Linked DNA regions of Homo sapiens: region 1 is linked to region 2. Evidence: fine-mapped expression QTL. Tissue or cell type: aorta. Region 2 holds a variant in brackets; the other region holds the start of a gene. All regions are shown on one strand. Distances are from middle to middle.

Evidence for each region. PIP is the estimated chance that this variant, and not a neighbour inherited with it, causes the effect.
Region 1: it holds the start of SH3RF2, and the variant in region 2 is fine-mapped to the expression of SH3RF2 in aorta (GTEx, PIP above 0.99).

What each region holds. Positions count from the first base shown.
Region 1 is chr5:145,932,691-145,940,796 of GRCh38, reverse strand. SH3RF2 (SH3 domain containing ring finger 2) reads right to left here and starts at 4,219. Exons shown (of 10, transcript NM_152550.4): 1 at 4,103-4,219; 2 at 2,491-2,974. The coding sequence starts at 2,868. It overlaps LOC107986458 (a long non-coding RNA gene), which reads left to right. Exons shown (of 4, transcript XR_001742913.2): 4 at 5,034-5,096. RefSeq lists an enhancer at 3,904-4,481.
Region 2 is chr5:145,973,740-145,981,847 of GRCh38, reverse strand. All of the region lies in intron 2 of SH3RF2 (SH3 domain containing ring finger 2), which reads right to left. The region is part of intron 3 of LOC107986458 (a long non-coding RNA gene); the gene reads left to right. Among named protein-coding and RNA genes, the nearest start is that of SH3RF2, 41 kb to the right of the region's middle. RefSeq lists an enhancer at 2,208-2,502. The variant C/T (reference allele first, on the strand shown) is at 4,757.

The sequences.
Region 1 (8,106 bases), 41 kb after region 2:
ATACATGACATCTTCCCATTTTACAGAATTTTAAATTGAGACCCAGCAAACATAAGTGGCTTGCCCAAAGTCATACAGCATGTCTAAATGAATCTTAATGATGATGCTTTGCATTTACATAGCAGATGTTTTCTAAGGCAGTAAAAGTATGTTGCAAAGATAATTTTCACACTATCCTGGAGGAAGGTGGGTAGCAAGTAGCTTTTGACTAGATTGGCTGAACTGTGGCAGAGAGGGCAAGGAACTCAGGAGGATTTGACCGAGGATGTAAGTCCATTCCTCTGACTCTCTAAACAGACTGTGGCATCCAGACAACCCTCAGTTCTCTTAACTGTGGGATGCATGGTTGCTTTCATGGTTGCAAAAAAGATAGGTAATATTTTTGGGAGCAGAGGCACGTTGCAGAACAGCAGCCATATTGACATCCAGAAATAGGTTTGTTCATATCCCCACTGAGGAAGGCAAAAGGAATGAGAGGAGTCACTTCAAGAAAGGATAGTTAGGACATAAAGGAATTGGGAAGTGGGGGTGCCAGCTCTGCTCTCTTGCAGAGCATCTTTCTAGCCCAGGTCCTGCCTGAACACAGGAGCCCTTGAGTTTCAGCCTCACCACAGGACTTGGTCCAGAGCAGCTTGGAGGGTGGGCACAGACGATAGTCTGATGTTATAAGTCCCTGCAAAAGAATTCCAGAGAGACCCAGTATCTTAATGGCTGTCTCTTATGTACAACCAGCTCTCACCTCAATTCCCTGTGCCAGAAGGGCCCTGAGAATCCTCTATAGTTCAAAAACTTGGTAGCTGTGGATCCATTCATCGCTACCTGTCCTTTGCAACACAGTCACATTGAGAAAGATGTAAACCACAACAAAAATATTCCAAGCTGATAAGGGAACTGCCTCCTCCCAGTGTGACACCGTTTCCTGAGTAAGTGATGATACTCCGCTGAAAGGCAGGTCAGACTTCTGCAAGGTGGGGAAGGGAAGAGGTTGCTAGGTCTTAGGAATTCAAGGGGGATTTGCTGACCCAGAGATAGAGCTCTTTTCTCTACAAACAAGGCATGTTTGAGAACAATTTGCTTCCCCACCCCTACTTCGCCATTTCCAGACCTGTGGATTCTGATTGATGACTAGACCAGGGGTAGTGGAGGGACTTAAAAAGAGTTCCAAACCCTTTTCTGGAATGTGTCACTTACAAGCACAATGGCAATAAAAAGCCTACAGTGAAGAAATCAAGGGTGTACAGTGAAAAAATGTCCTGCTTCTTCCCACCCTCATTGTTGAATGTTTACACATGCGCCATGGGTGGTTTAAAGATGCAGTGAACCCAGGAAGTGGTAGCTCTTAGAAGGAAAATTTCGGAAAGTTGTTCCAAATGCGTATCACAAGCCACTCCTCACTCCTGAGTAAGGAAGCAGTCCTGCAAGACCCTCCCACACGTTATTCCTCTTCAGAGCAGGGAGATGTGGGACACTGCTGCCAGCATTTAGACTCTAATGCTTGCTCTAGGTAAGACTTCAAGGAATGTAGCTTTGATTTTCTAAGTATGCCAATGGCCCAAGCCACAGCTTTCCGTGTCCACTTTTTTACACTGACTCCAGGGGTGACAGTGCAAATAATTCTGCTGGACTCACAAGGACCATGTCCTTCTTTCCAGATGTGCCCTTACACATTATCCCACAACAAGGTTCATAGCCAGGTCAGATAAAGTCCTCGGGGTGTGCTTTCAGCGCTGGACAGAGCGATTCCCATTATCCAAACATGAAAAGCATTAATCTCCTGTGAGGCGTAACTGGGTCTGTTTGGTTTTTTAATTGCAGCCCCTGCTGTGTATCTTCTCTGTATTTCATTCATTTTGCAAAATGAGACACATCTGCAGAGCTCCTATACACAGCTGAAGCACTTCACAGCCCAGCCTTTGCTATCAATCAGTCCACCCACATAGATGCTTCCCTCCTGCACTATCTCCCGCGTCAAGTATCTTGATAGCTTGGAACAGATTATGAATGAGTATTGCCATAATAGCACTTTATGACTAGGGGTGGGAAGATGGATTTGGGTAAAATTCAAACAAAACCTGACATTTGGAAATTTCTGAGAGATCTCAAAAGCAACAAGCAGTTGGATTTGTTTTCTCTCTTTTGTTTCTCCCCACCCTCCGTGCATTTCCCAGGCACTAGTTTGGCCTCAGAACAGCAGAAGTGAAACACCAAAAATATAATCTAAAAGGCTTTCCTTGTTCTACTACTTTCTGGACTAGAGGAAAGGAGAACCTAGGAAGCTTTAATAGTTCTAAAGAGAATTCTTAGATGGATTAGATAGGCTCAGGTTTTCATTGTATTTGAGTAAAATGATCACTGCCCACAGAAACTTATCACTGGGAAATCAACAGCAGCACTCTGGAATGTAACTAAAAGAAGATAATCTCTAGCTCCTTGTATACACAAATCCAACCTCTATGTGGACATGATATTAGCAAATAAGATCTCTCTTACCCCATCCATGTGGATTCTGACATTAGGCACTAGCCGGAAAGGACTGGCCTGCAGACGTCTGGGGTTGGTCCTGCTTTTCCTGCCATCCTGCAAGGTCATCGTGCCAGGCCTGCGGAAGGAGCCCCCTCTCCCGGAGCTCTGCCCTGAGCGCACTCCATCCAGAAGGCGCACGAGCAGCAGGTTGGCCGGCAGCGCCTCAATGTTGGAAAACACAGGCGTCCTGCATTCGGGGCACCGCAGCTCTTTGTGGGCCTTGAAAACCCTCTGTAGACATGGTTTGCAGAAGGTGTGCTGGCAAGGGAGGACTTTGGCTGTGACATCGAGCTTCTCAAAGCACACAGGGCACTCCAGAAGATCAAGTAACGTCAAATCATCCATTTTATTTCAAAACTCCAGTTCCCACCTGGAGGAGCAGCGTCCACATGGTAGGGTCAGTTGAGCCACGGGGGCAGAGCTGGTCTCTTGAGAACGTCAGAATTTTTGCCTGCTTGAAGGAGGGAGAGGAGAGAAAAAAAAATGTGACTGCTCCGAGAGGTATATCCCACCTACATTGAGGCAGTGTCTCATAAGGCAGTTTGCAAGTACTTTGTTCCGGCACCCAAGTTTCAAATGACTCATTCTGATTCAATGCTAGCAGGTATAAGACTCAACTCGTGCTTGCTGTGAGGATCAGAGGGAACATTCAGCACAAGACTGACTGCTTATTGCCTATGTGGACAGGAAAGCAGGGAGATAAACTGGCCTGCTGAAGTGGCCCCCCAACCCCTCTCTACCAGCCAGGGCGGGAAGAGGTCCTTTACCCCCTGCCCGGGGAAAGCTCCTGGACAGTCTCAATTCTTACAACAAAGCCCCCTCCGAACGCAATTTCTGTGAAGCTATCTCCTCCTCCTCCTTCCCCTAAATCTAAATGTATCTATTATCTGCACCACATGCAGATTAGTTTAGGTGGGTAAGTTTATCTGAATCTCATGCAGATGTAGAATTATTTCCTTCACAATATACCTTCCCACATGATTCTAGCAATGTACAAGAAAAATTTCCACTAGAAACCCATTTCCAAAAATTGTTTTGCCTTAACCACAGGTCAGGGTGCTTGGAAGCTTTGTTTCTTTTCTTTTTTCATCTTTTTTTTTTTTTCTCTCCTCATCCCGATTACCTTAGGCTCAGAGACAATGTTCCTCCCACAAGGTAAAGTAGTGCAGCCTGTTTAGTTACTTTGACATTGTTCTCAATTTCAAATGAAGCAGATAGGAATTCTGGATTGTGGTCACGACCTGTAAAAACCGTACTGGGGCAGCATATACAGGTAGGGGTCGTGTGTGTGTGTACTCTGAAAACAGTACTTGTTCCAGAAACAAGTTTCCTTTTGGATGTATGAAAAGAAGCCTCCAGTTTAGAAAAGTCTGGAAGAAGTCAGCTGTCCCTCACAAGTGCCAGGGCTTCGGTAAGCACCGAGCCCAGAGGTTTGGCGAGAAGGCCAGTGGCCCCACTAGCGACTAGTAAGCAGGACAGACACGACCGAGAATGAGCGATGGCGCCTCGCCTTCCTAAGCCTCCTCTCCAAAGATGTCAGCGCGGCAGCGGGCTGGGGAGGCGTGTGGGGGCCACTAACCTTGTGCATGTAACTTCTGCTGAGTTCAGCTCAGCCCCCTCCTCCGCGCAGCAGGGGTGCGCTGCGCCCTCCAACCGGCTTCCTTTCCTCCAAGCGCCGCTGCTGCCAACCGCTTTGAAAACTTTAACCACTCAGTCTTACTCATTTCAAGGGATCGCCTTACCCAGCCCTGTTAACGCTTTCACTGCCAGGGCGCTGCCTACTTACCACGCTTTTGTTGTTGCAGTTGTTAACTTTATGATCTTTCCTTCAGTTTACTGAATTGCTTCTGGGAAAAGATTGTAAGAGGTAAAATATAAGCCAGTCCCTAAGGCCAAGTATTTACAAAGTTCATATTTTCACCTTTCCCGTTTTCTGTAGTATCCAAGGAGTCAGAACCTGCTCCATTATAAACATACCAAAGTGATTGTGTTTATTTTAAATCTTCATAAGGATTTCCTGGGAAGGTCAAAAGTAAAAATGGTCAAGCTATGAAAACAAGGATAAGTCGGACACCTAGAAAATATTGCTCTTTGAAAATCATAGTCAATCTCTGAATTTAGAGATAAGAGGGACTTTAGTGATCTTTTTGCTCAATCTGTTTAAATTAAAAAACTAGTGTCACGTATATACACATACGTGAAAAATCAAAGCACAGAGAAGCTTTTTCAAAAAAGGAAAAGCAGTGGCCTCCAAGCTCTCCTCCTGCCTGTTATCCACTGTAGTCTTTTCATATCCTCAGATTATGCCTATATTTCTATTTTTTGATTTATCGATAATACATTTCATGTAAAATTACAAAGGTATCCGATTAAGTGAATAATAACAATCTTAATGCCAGGGTAGTCCTTATCTGTGTCAACCACTGTTCTAAATACCTTACCTGTGTTAGCCCTTTAACCCCTTAACAACCCAAGGAGACACTAAACTATTCTTTACTTTCATCTTGCAGATGAGGGAACTTGAGACACAGAGAGGATAAATAACTCATCTCGGGAGTCACAGCTAGCAGAAGGCAAGTGGGCTGTGCTCTTAACAATGTCATGGAGTGATATAACTTTAAGAGGCTGGCCAGGCGCAGTGGCTCATGCCTGTAATCCCAACACTTTGGGAGGCCGACGTGGGCAGATCACAAGGTCAGGAGATCAAGACCATCCTGACCAACATGGTGAAACCTCATTTCTACTAAAAATACAAAAATTAGCTGGGCATGGTGGTGCGCACCTGAAGTCCCAGCTACTCAGGAGGCTGAGGCAGGAGAATCGCTTGAACCTGGGAGGCGGAGGCTGGAGTGAGCTGAGATCGTGCCACTGCACTCCAGCCAGGGCGACAAAAAAAAAAAAAAAAAAAAAGAGGTGAAGAGGTGGTTCAAGGGAGCTAAGCCTCCCCTAAGAGGGCAAGAGGTCAAAAGATAATGGACAAAACTGGCTACTCACTTTCTCTTACAGATGAGGCAGCTGTGCCCAGAAAGATCAAGGGATTCTTTGAAGTTGTCCAGTGAGTTAGGGGCAGAATTGGGACTAGAAACTAGGTGTTTGAGGCCAGGCGCGGTGACTCATGCCTGTAATCCCAGCACTTTGGAAGGCTGAGGTGTGGGTGGATTGCTTGAGGTCAGGAGTTTGAGACCAGCCTGGCCAACATGGTGAAGCCCGATCTCTACTAAAAATGCAAAAATTAGCTGGGTGTGTTGGCTGGGAGTGCTTGGGAGGCTGAAGCACAAGAATCACTTGAACCTGGGAGGTGGAGGCTGCAGTGAGCTGAGATTGTGCCATTGCACTCCAGCCTGGGCGACTAAGACTCCGTCTCAAAAAAAAAAAAAAAAAAAAAGAGAAAGAAACTGGGTGTTCTTTTTAAAATTATTGTTATTACTATATCTTCTCTCTAGACGTAAGGATGACAATTATTTATTATGCAGAGAGTGTTCAGACACAGCTCAATGGGAAAATCTTAAGAGGAGACCAGGAGGTCTGAAAACATTGTTTACATATTTTTCCACGTTCTTTCATGTTAGTTCCAAAACATCAAACATGCATGTGGCCCAGAACTTTAGGATGGAGCCGATGGTTATCTATTTTCTGAGCACGGAGGCCTAATTTTGATGTAGGACAATTTCAGAGACCACTTTCAACTATTACTTTTTTAACGTCACTTTTGAGCTTTGATAACATCACATCCCATTCTGCTTGCCTGTCTCCTTCTATTAATTTCTACTCTTGAGTCTGTGCCACTAAGGAAGCTCTTGAGGTTTACTGTCCTCTTACTCTGTTTCCCACTTAGTAAAGCTGAGTCAGTTTCCTTTGTGCCCTGCAGTGGTCTCACTCCGTAAAAAGGGCCACTCCTATGCTGGAACTCCTGTTGCAGAGATTGGCGATATTTTTCATTATTCTTTCTCTTGTTCTTAAACACACTCTATCTCCCTTACATACTCATATCTGCACCTATATGCAGATGCATGCATACACTTGTGTAAGGGTGCACACATACATAATCTTAATAATAGTAACACCTATGGAGCACTTGCTGTATGCCACTGACCAATGCTAAGATTTTAAACATATTATCTCATTGAATTCTCCCAACCACCCCGTAAGATACTGTAACTTTCCCAGGGTTACAAACCTTGTGATCTGAACTCAGGTTGGTCTAATCCCGGGGCCTGTGTTTCTTTTCATTTTATAAAATCATGTACATATCATAAGTACACCCATGTATCTTTACTATTTAAATCTGCACATGGTTACACATATACCCATATTGTACACACCAGCTGATCTCAGAGCCAACCCAAGACAAAATATTGATGTCAGAAAAGGAGATTGGGCCCCTCTGGGTTGTAGTCTACCCATCTCATGGCCCCTCCACACCCCTGTATGGTCAATGGTCTTAAAAGCTTCAAACCTTCCCATCCCTGAGAAAATGCAGTCAAACCAGCTCAGTCCCAGGAAGGCAGACTAGATCCAGTGGGTTACTCTTGTAGCAAATCTGGCAATTGAAAATCCAGCCAAGTAGAATCGTGATGGTAGAATTTTAGGTTCTAATGGAGGACAGAGAAAAGGTACACTGAAGCGAGGGGTCATCTTTCAGCACCTCTCAAACGACGCCCTGTAGGTGGTCCCCAACACCACCCACATGAGGTTAGTCTTGAAGAGAAAATTTCTTGAAACTTTTAAAGAAGGGCGAGAGTTTTAAATGGGGATTTGTTCTGGCTTACCCAAATACTACCTTGGCATCAAATCAGATGAACATGTAGTCTTTAAAAACAAACAAAAAGGTGAACTATGCATACCTCTTCAGACTCCAGGCCACCTCCCTTCTCCCGCTGTTCCCACCCCACCAACACTCCTGTTTCTATCTGTATAGTTATGGGGTGATGATTGGCTGCATTCTTTTAAAAAATCTGTATGATATGTCTGACCTTCTGCTGTGCATATTTATGAGTACATTTAGATTTATGTATATAAAACACACAAACAAGCAAACCTGGTCTTATTGTTTCCCTAGTCAAAACTCTTCAGTAGGTTTCCATAACCTTAGGATAACATCAAATCCTTCTTCCGCGCTGTCAGGCCCTGCGTGATCTGGCTCATGCCCACCTCTCCTGCTTCAACTTATACCCCCATCACCCCCTCACTCAGCACACTCTTGACCCACTGGGTTTCTCTTCACTCTTAGGATAGCGTTTTTGTCATCAAGTATTTGTTCATGCTCTTCTTTCTGTCTTCAACACACCCTCTTCCCCTTCCTCTCTTCCTAGTTACTCTCTTCCTCCCTGCTTTGCTTTTTTAATGCCCTTCTCTGCAAATTTGAGCTTTAAAAAATGTCAGTTCCTCCAGGAAGACTTCTTTGATTTTCATGAGTAGAAAGTTTGTCATCCTACACTTCTCCTTTATAACAGCTATCACAGCTGTAACTCAGTAATTATTTTATAATGATTTATTTAATGCCCAACTCCCGCAAATAGACTGTAAACTCCAAGAGAGGAAGGACCTTATGTGTCTTGTTGCTCTTCTGTTCCCCTGTATCTA
Region 2 (8,108 bases):
TGGAAATGTGCTATTCTATGCTGTCCAATACAGCAGCCACTGCCCATCTGTGGTTATTGAACATGTGCCATGTGCTAGTGTGACTGAGGAACTGAATTTCAAATTCTATTTACTTTTAATTATTTAAATTTGAAGAGCTGCATGTGGCTAGTGTCTACTGTGTTAGACAGCATAGTTCAAGATCTAACTATCACTTACAAGAAACACAGAGACTGGTGAACATGTTAAATGACAACACAGGGATGCAATAGGAAAAACTCAGAAAGTGGGAAACTACGAGGCAAATGACCCAATCTCTCTAATAAATAAACTGCATGGGAAAAAGGAAGAGGAGGTGTGCGTGTGGGGGAACCTAGAGCTTAAGAGATTTAGGAAGTTTATCAGCCAACTGCAATGTGTGGATCTTGGTGAATCCTGATTCAAACAAACCATCAAAAAATTATGAGACTGTCTGGGTGCAGTGGCTCATGCCTGCAATTCCAGTACTTTGGGAGACTCAGGTGGGAGGATCACTTAAACCCAGGAATTCAAGACCAGCCTGGGCAACATGGTGAGACCCTGTCTCTACAAAAAATAGCCAAAAAAATTAGCTGGGTGTAGTGGCATATGCTTGTAGTGTTAGCTAATTGGGAGGCTGAGGTGGGAGGATCACCTGAGCTCAGGAAGTCAAGGCTGCAGTGAGCTATAATCATGCCACTGCACTCCAGCCTGGGTGACAAAGCAAGACCCTGCCTCAAAAAAAGAAAAAAGAAAAAAAATTGAGGAAATTTAGACACTGACTGCATATGCGATGACATCAAGAAATGTTTAGATGTGATAATGATGTTGAGGTTATGCTAAAAAATAGAATCTTCATTTTCTAGAGGCAGCTCCTGACATATTTACCAATGAAAGAGTATGATGTGTGGACTTTGCCTCAGTTTCATCCAGTAGGGGGAGGAAGTGAATGGGATATAGATGCAATAAGATTGACCTTATGTTGATAATTGTGGAGGCTGGGCGATAGGTATATAAGCATTCATTATTATTATTTTCTCTATTTTTATATTTAGAAATACTTATAATAAGTTTGAAAAATCAAATCATCAGAGTAATCCTAATGTTGGTGTAAGAGTATGGGCAAAAAGGCACCTTCCTTGAATATTGGGAGCTTAAAATTTCACAGTGAGGAGTAACTAGGTACATTGGTCAAGATTTACATTACGTGTTTTCTTTGCCTTACAAATCCTAAAAATCCTAGTTTTAGGAATTTCTCCCATAGACATATGCTAGAATCTATGTAAAAGATTGTGAAGTGCAGGATCATTTATAATAGTGAAGAATTAGAAATAGCCTAAGTATCCTTCTGTTGTGGATTAAATAAATGATAGCAAGTAACTACTGTGGAATGCTAAGCAGCTTTAGAGAGAATGAGATAGATTGGGGTGGACTGTCATGGGAAAGATTCATGATCTAGTCTCAGGTTAAAAAGAAAAGCAATTTGCAAAAAAATATGTACACCCTGATCTAATACAAAATACATATGTGTATGTGTACACAAAGATAAAGCCTGGAAAAACATACACCTAATTAATTTGGGGAGGGGAGGAACTTACAACTGCCTCGTTACGTGTGGGTGTCAATTAGCTTCAACTCTTGTCGTTTGTTACTATGAATAATCAACAGCTGGTCCTCCCATCAGGTACCCTGGCCTTTCTCCTAGAAGAAAATGTATGTGTCTTCTGGGGCTGAGAGGTTTCATCCAACACAAACTGTTCATCCCTACTTCCAAAGTAGGGCACGTTTCAGAAGTTTATTTATCTTATGATAATAGCTCCCAATTACTGAGCATTGCCCCGTGCTGAGCATTGGGCTAATGTCTCTGTCACCTCACGGGCTCTGGAATAAATTCAGGTTCTCCCACTTGCTACTGTATCACTTTGGACTAGTTACTTCAGCTCAACTTCCTCATGTATAAAATGGAAGGAATATCAGTACCTATTGTATGGTTTTGAGAAGTCAGTGAATAATGCATAGTAAGTGCCTGGTGGATAGATATAAATACTCAATAAAAGTCCACTATCATTTTCTCACTTCAACCTTCCAACAATCCCTATGAGGTAAACGCTATTATTCATCCATTTGACAGATAAGGAAATTGAGTCTTAGAGACAATGGTGTGCTGGAGCCAGCTTCCATGGGCTTGTGAAAGCCAATTGTTAAATTTTCAAAAGTTTTTTGAGTTGGCCGACATCATGTTGATAGTTTGAAAGTAGCCATGATGGGGTATTTCTGCCATGAAAATGAGCGAACCCATTTCCCCCACAGAGCTGCTTGTTAAACATTTACCAGCACACCACTACTTAGAGCAGTAAGATAACTTATCTGAGGCCCCATGGCTGGTGAGTGGCAGAGCCTAGTTCTAGCTAATTCCAAAGGTCTTGTTTGGATATTTGTAGATATGCTTTGTTTGAACAAATCCCTCTTTAAAAGTAACTCTTATCTCCTGGAAAGGCTGTTTAACATCATGTCCCTTGACACTGATTCTCAGATTTTTAGGGTGCATTGGAATCACTTGGAGGGCTTGTTGCAATAAATTGCTGGGCCCTACCCCAAGAGTTTCTTCTGTAGTAGGTCTGGGGTGGGGCCCAAGAATTTGTGTTTCTAGCCAGTTCCCCCAGGTGATGGTAATCCTGCTGGTCTGGGGACCACACTTTGGGAACTATTGTTCTAGCGCAAAATCAGAAATTTTGTGCTATAAACCTTGCCATAATCTTACTTAGGGCCAGGACTTTAATCAGTTCTTTTCCAACAGAATTTAGATTCTAGGCCCTGAGTTTTTCACAGGTGACCATTTGGTAGGATATCTGTGTTCCCAGAAGTATGAGCACAGGAAAACAGGAACCCAATCTTGGTGCCTGTTTCTCCAGTTGGCCCCCATTTAGCTCTGGCAGATATCCCAGGAGCCAGGGCCTCTCCCCACACACAGCAGGAGGCAAATGAAAAAAAGGAAGATTTCAAAGTCTATCTTTAAAACCTGGCAGAAACCTGCCCTATAATTACCCTAAGTGAACTAGTTACAACTTCTCTCGTATTGATGTAGGATTATTATGAGATTGTTCACACAGTCTGGTGGAATTCAACTAATGAATTTAGAGGTGTTTTTTTTCTTTTTTTTTTTTTCCTTAAAACCACCCTCCTAACTAACTCCTGCCTCCTAAATATTGTAGAAAACAAAACCAGGAAGGAAAATGAGGTAAACCCTGAATTAATGTTCTCAATCAGAAAATGTTTATTTACTGAAATGATTGCTGCTTTTGGAAGTACAACTTGCTAAGTCTGGTTTTCTAACTTAAGTATTTCATTTTTCAAAAACACTTAGATGGGGCATGAAGAGTAGACGAAGCAGGAGGGCATGAAGACATATATAAAAGCACCCTGTGGACATCCCTGCAAAGGAATCTAGAGAAGCTAGGATGGGGCGTTGGCCATCCCAAGTTTGCAGTGATTTGACTTATCTCTGCAACCAGGTTCTATGAATGTGCTGGCCAGTGTTGTAGAAGGAAATAGACCAGGGTGAGGGCTCTGGTGGCCACTCTTATAATCTTAGGTTTGGGAGGTAGGAAAGGTATCCTCGGCTTAAAATGTACCAAGGGCTTATACCATATGGACTTGCTTTCATTTAGGGAATCTGATTTCAGGAATATGATTTTTTGCAGATAATCGGAATCCCAGTTTCTTGAGAGTAGGAACCAAATCTTACAAATCTTTCTGGCCCTATGTTCCAGAGCACAGAATTAGTGTGTAAGAATCTCAATAAATGCTTATGAATGACAGGATGTTAATTTGGAAAGAATAAGGGTTTTAGAGTCAGTGATTTGCTTTCAAATCCCATCTAAACTTTCTATCTGTGTGACCTTAAGCAAGTCATTTAACTTCTTTGACACATAGTTTCTGCATCTGTGAAACAGGGGTCAATCAGTCCACAAAATTTACTGAGTGCCTGTGTGTGCCAAAACTGTTCTAGATACAGGAGCTACGTTAGGGAACAAGGCAGTCAGAATGTCTGTTCTTGAGGTATATGTGTATGTAGCATTAGAGCCTATCTCAAGCTGCTTCTTGGGAAGGCTAAATGTGAGCTAAGGGCCAAATCCTGGGTTCAAGTCCTGCCTCTACCACAAACTAGCTGTGACATCTCAGCAAGCTGATAGTAATAGGACCAGCCATATGGGGATACTGTAAGACCCCCACCACATGTCCATACCTGTCTTTGTGTACATTTGGAAAGGGCATCTTTTTGGGCACAGGAGTTACATGAAAAGGCACTCTTACCATGGGGCTAATGTGGTCCCATTTCAGAGCTTGGTAAGCAGAGGCTGAATTCAGCCTACAGAGTATCTCCTTGGCTGGGTACCTTGTACAGATATATGTAAAGCCCCTAGAACTGTGCCTGGCATACAGTAAGTACTCAATAGGTACTAGCTTTTATTACTGTATGTGATGAGAATTAATGTAAGCAAGGCATCAATAGTATATGATTGGTGTTCAGTGACTGTTAGTTCCCTTCCTCATGGTCTGTGGAAAAATAGTAACCATATATGTCAGAACAAAGTGTAGATGATAAGCGACAATAGCTTACCTTGTCTTGTCTTTTGTTTTAGCATGTGCAGGAGGTAGTCGGGCCTAAGAAAAAGAGCCCTGGACTAGGAATCAGAAGATATTGCTCTTGCCCCAGTTTCCCCTTGCTTGGCCTCTGCCGAGGCAACCTTCTCCAAGC[C/T]TCAGTTTTCCCATCTGTAAATGAGATGAAGGTGTGGACTGGCTGAGGTCATGAGCTGGCATGAGCACATGAGTGCATTTCACTGCAACAATTTCTTACTTTGCCTAGAGTGTGTATAGACAAATAAGGGCATGAGCCAGACTCTGGGAAGGGGGTACTTTATGAGTAAGTCTTAGAAGGACTTCCTCTTCCAACATGCCTTATTATACAGGCTCTAACCGAAACAACAGGACTTGCCCACACAGTGGGTGACCTCTATATGGTGTCAAATGACCTTTAACTGAGAACCATGGGGATAACTGGCTAGTAAGCCCAGCTATTAATCGATGGCTTAGGCATGCAAGATTTTGTATCATGTTTTAGTCTTGCCTGGGCTAACTATGTGACAGTGGCTAAGTCACTTCTGGTCAATATGGTCTAGGATTCTATCCAGCTCAGATATTCTATCAGTCAATGACTAATACCTTCCGTTTTTCTTGACTTTTCTAGTTAGAACTAGATTATTCAAATTCCTAATCAGGCACTTGAATGAGGCATTCTTTCTTTCAATTTAGGGAGTGAAACTACGTGGTGGTTTCCAAGCAGTCAGTGTTTTAGCCTTTAGGCAAGTGCGTTTCCAAAACCCGCCCCCCACCTTTTTTTTTTTTTCCTTCTTAATTCCATTAGTCTGCAAAATAGCTAATAAAAGTCATCATTTATTGAGTTTGTTGTGGGTCCAGAACTGGGCTAAAGTGCATTTAGATACAGTATCTCACTCAATCCTTACAACCAGCTGATGAGGCAGGTATTACAACCATTTTACAGGTGAAGAACTGGAAGCTCAGGGAGGTGAACTAACCTGCCTAAGGTCACACAGCTGATATGTAAGTGGTGGGGTCTGAGGGCGAATCCTGGCCTCTTTCCCCTGCAATATCCTGCATTTGTTAATTATTCCTCTTTATGTAGCATTATGTGAAGTGGCTTCTCTATTGTAGTTGTTCAATATTCTAAGTCGATTAATGTTCCACAAATATTTACTAAAAACCCACCTCGTTACAAAAGAAGGTTCTTCACTGGTGTGTATGTGACCTGTCATTATCTTATGCAAGCTGTATAATGATGTATTTGAGGCAACACCATTGATCTCTTATTGAGTGCCTACTGTAAGTAACATTTATTGGTCAATTGATACCATGTCTTAATGTACTATCTCATCTAAGCCTTACAACAATCCACGAGGCAGGGCCTCTAATTATCTCCAGTTTACAGATAAGGGATGTGAGGCACAGAGCAGGGATTTGTCTGCAGCCCTACAGCTCCACAGCTAGGCACTGCCCCAGTAGGGGAATGATTCAACATCTTCTGTTTCCTTTGGCTCTCTGCCAAGGGTCCAGTGGTCCTGTGTTAAGTTTGAACTCAACACGGTTCATTGCTTGGTTAGACTCTAGCAGGGCTGACTGTGAACCACCAAGATCACAGATATTCTTGCTCATCTCCCACTCTGGAAAGATGGACAGAAGTGCACAGAGGGAACCAGCTGGGGCTGTTATCAAGTCAAAGAGTGCAGACAGCTGGGGTGGGAGCTAGGACTAGCACACCTGCCTTCCCTCACTTGGTGGAAGGGGGATCTGATATCCAAATACCTTTCTTTCCTCTCACTGCTGTGAGTCACCTTGTGTCTGCATGAGGAGGCTTCCTGTGATGTCTGCAGCTGCCCCTCTAAGATGAGAGACTTGGCCAACTAAGACAGGAGTCAGGGATGTGCCATGTTCAGCCAGCCTTCTTAGAGTAAATGATGGAAAATTCTGGTTTCCAATGACTAGTGCTGAGTGGCACTTTTGGAGCCATTTTGTTAAACTGGCTATTGGGAAACTGAGCTCCAGTGTCAGTTGGGAAGGACGGAGTGTCCAGAAATAGAACAGGACATTGCAAACGAGCCATGAAAAACAAACTCAGGCCCTGGCCTGGCTGCCTGGGCCCAGATGTTCTCCCACAGAAGCTTGGCAGAACATGCGTGTAGGGCACTGCCTGGATGAGCCAGGTGTCTCCAAGGTTCTGGACATAGCTTGGCTGTAGTGTTTGGTTCCAGGTTCTGAAACTCAGGTGGGCCAGAAAAGAGTTCAGACACATGAGACTCATCTGTGATCCCACAGGCTTCAGTTCTAGATTCTATTTTTTTAATTGGGTGGTTCTTGGGAAAACCGATTCAATATATTGTAGACCTACAGATTTCCTTATTGATTGTCATCTCTTTTAGGAACAACTTTGCATATGTTTGGAAGCTCTGTTATCTCTCATTTCTCCATCTCTTTCCTTTTCTCCTCCTTCTCCCACCTCTCTTAAACTACAGGGTAGTAGGTAAAGCTTGGGCTATAGAGTGTAGCAGAAACAAGTGTGACTCCTAGTTTTACTTTTTGCACTGTACGACCTCAGGAAACTTGCTTCACGTCTCTGAATTCTAGTTTTCTTTTGTAAGTCGTTACAATAGTTAACACCTACCACATGGGGTTTGGAGAAAGATTACATAATAAAATGCATGTGAAGATAACTGGCACAGTACCTTGCTCATAATATATGGTTAATAAATGCTATATATACATAGATACATTCTTCTCCTCCATTTTTCTTTTCTTCTTGCTCTCTTCTTTTCCTTCCTTTCCTATCCATCTTTGGAACACAGACTCTAAGGTGGCCCCCATGATTCCTACCATGACCAAAGGTGCTCCTACCCCCATGAAATTCCTTCTCCTTGAATATAGGTGGGATCTGTGGCTTGTTTCTAATCAATGGAACATAAAAAAGGTGATGAGATATCACTACCCTATGATTAATTCATGTTATATAAGATTCCGTCTTGCTCGACACTCTCTCCCTTGCTGGCTTTGAAGAAGTGGCTGTGTTAGGAGGTCATATGGCAAAGAGCTGAGGACAATCTCTAGGAGCTGAAGGAAGCTTCCAGCCAACAGCAGGCAAGAAGCCTGGGTTCTCAGTTTTACAGCCACAAGGAAATGTTCTGACTACAACCTGAGCAAGCCTGGAAGTGAACCCTTCCTCAGTCGAGCCTCCTGATAAGAATCCTACCCTGACCAACCTCTTGATGGCAGAGGATTCAGCTGGGCTGTGTCAGACTCCTGACCCACAGAACCTGTGAGATAATAAGTGTGTGTTGTTTTATGCCTCTAAATTTGTGATGATTTGTTACACAGCATAGAAAATGAATGTCCCTTCTTTTCCAATTCTCCCTCACCCCTTTTTACTCATTCACAACTTTCATAATTCTTCCTCACCCCTTTCAACTAATTCACTAATTCCATAATCAAATTATATGTCTAAGTAGAAAATGCAGTAGAACGACTTCCATATATTGCTTACT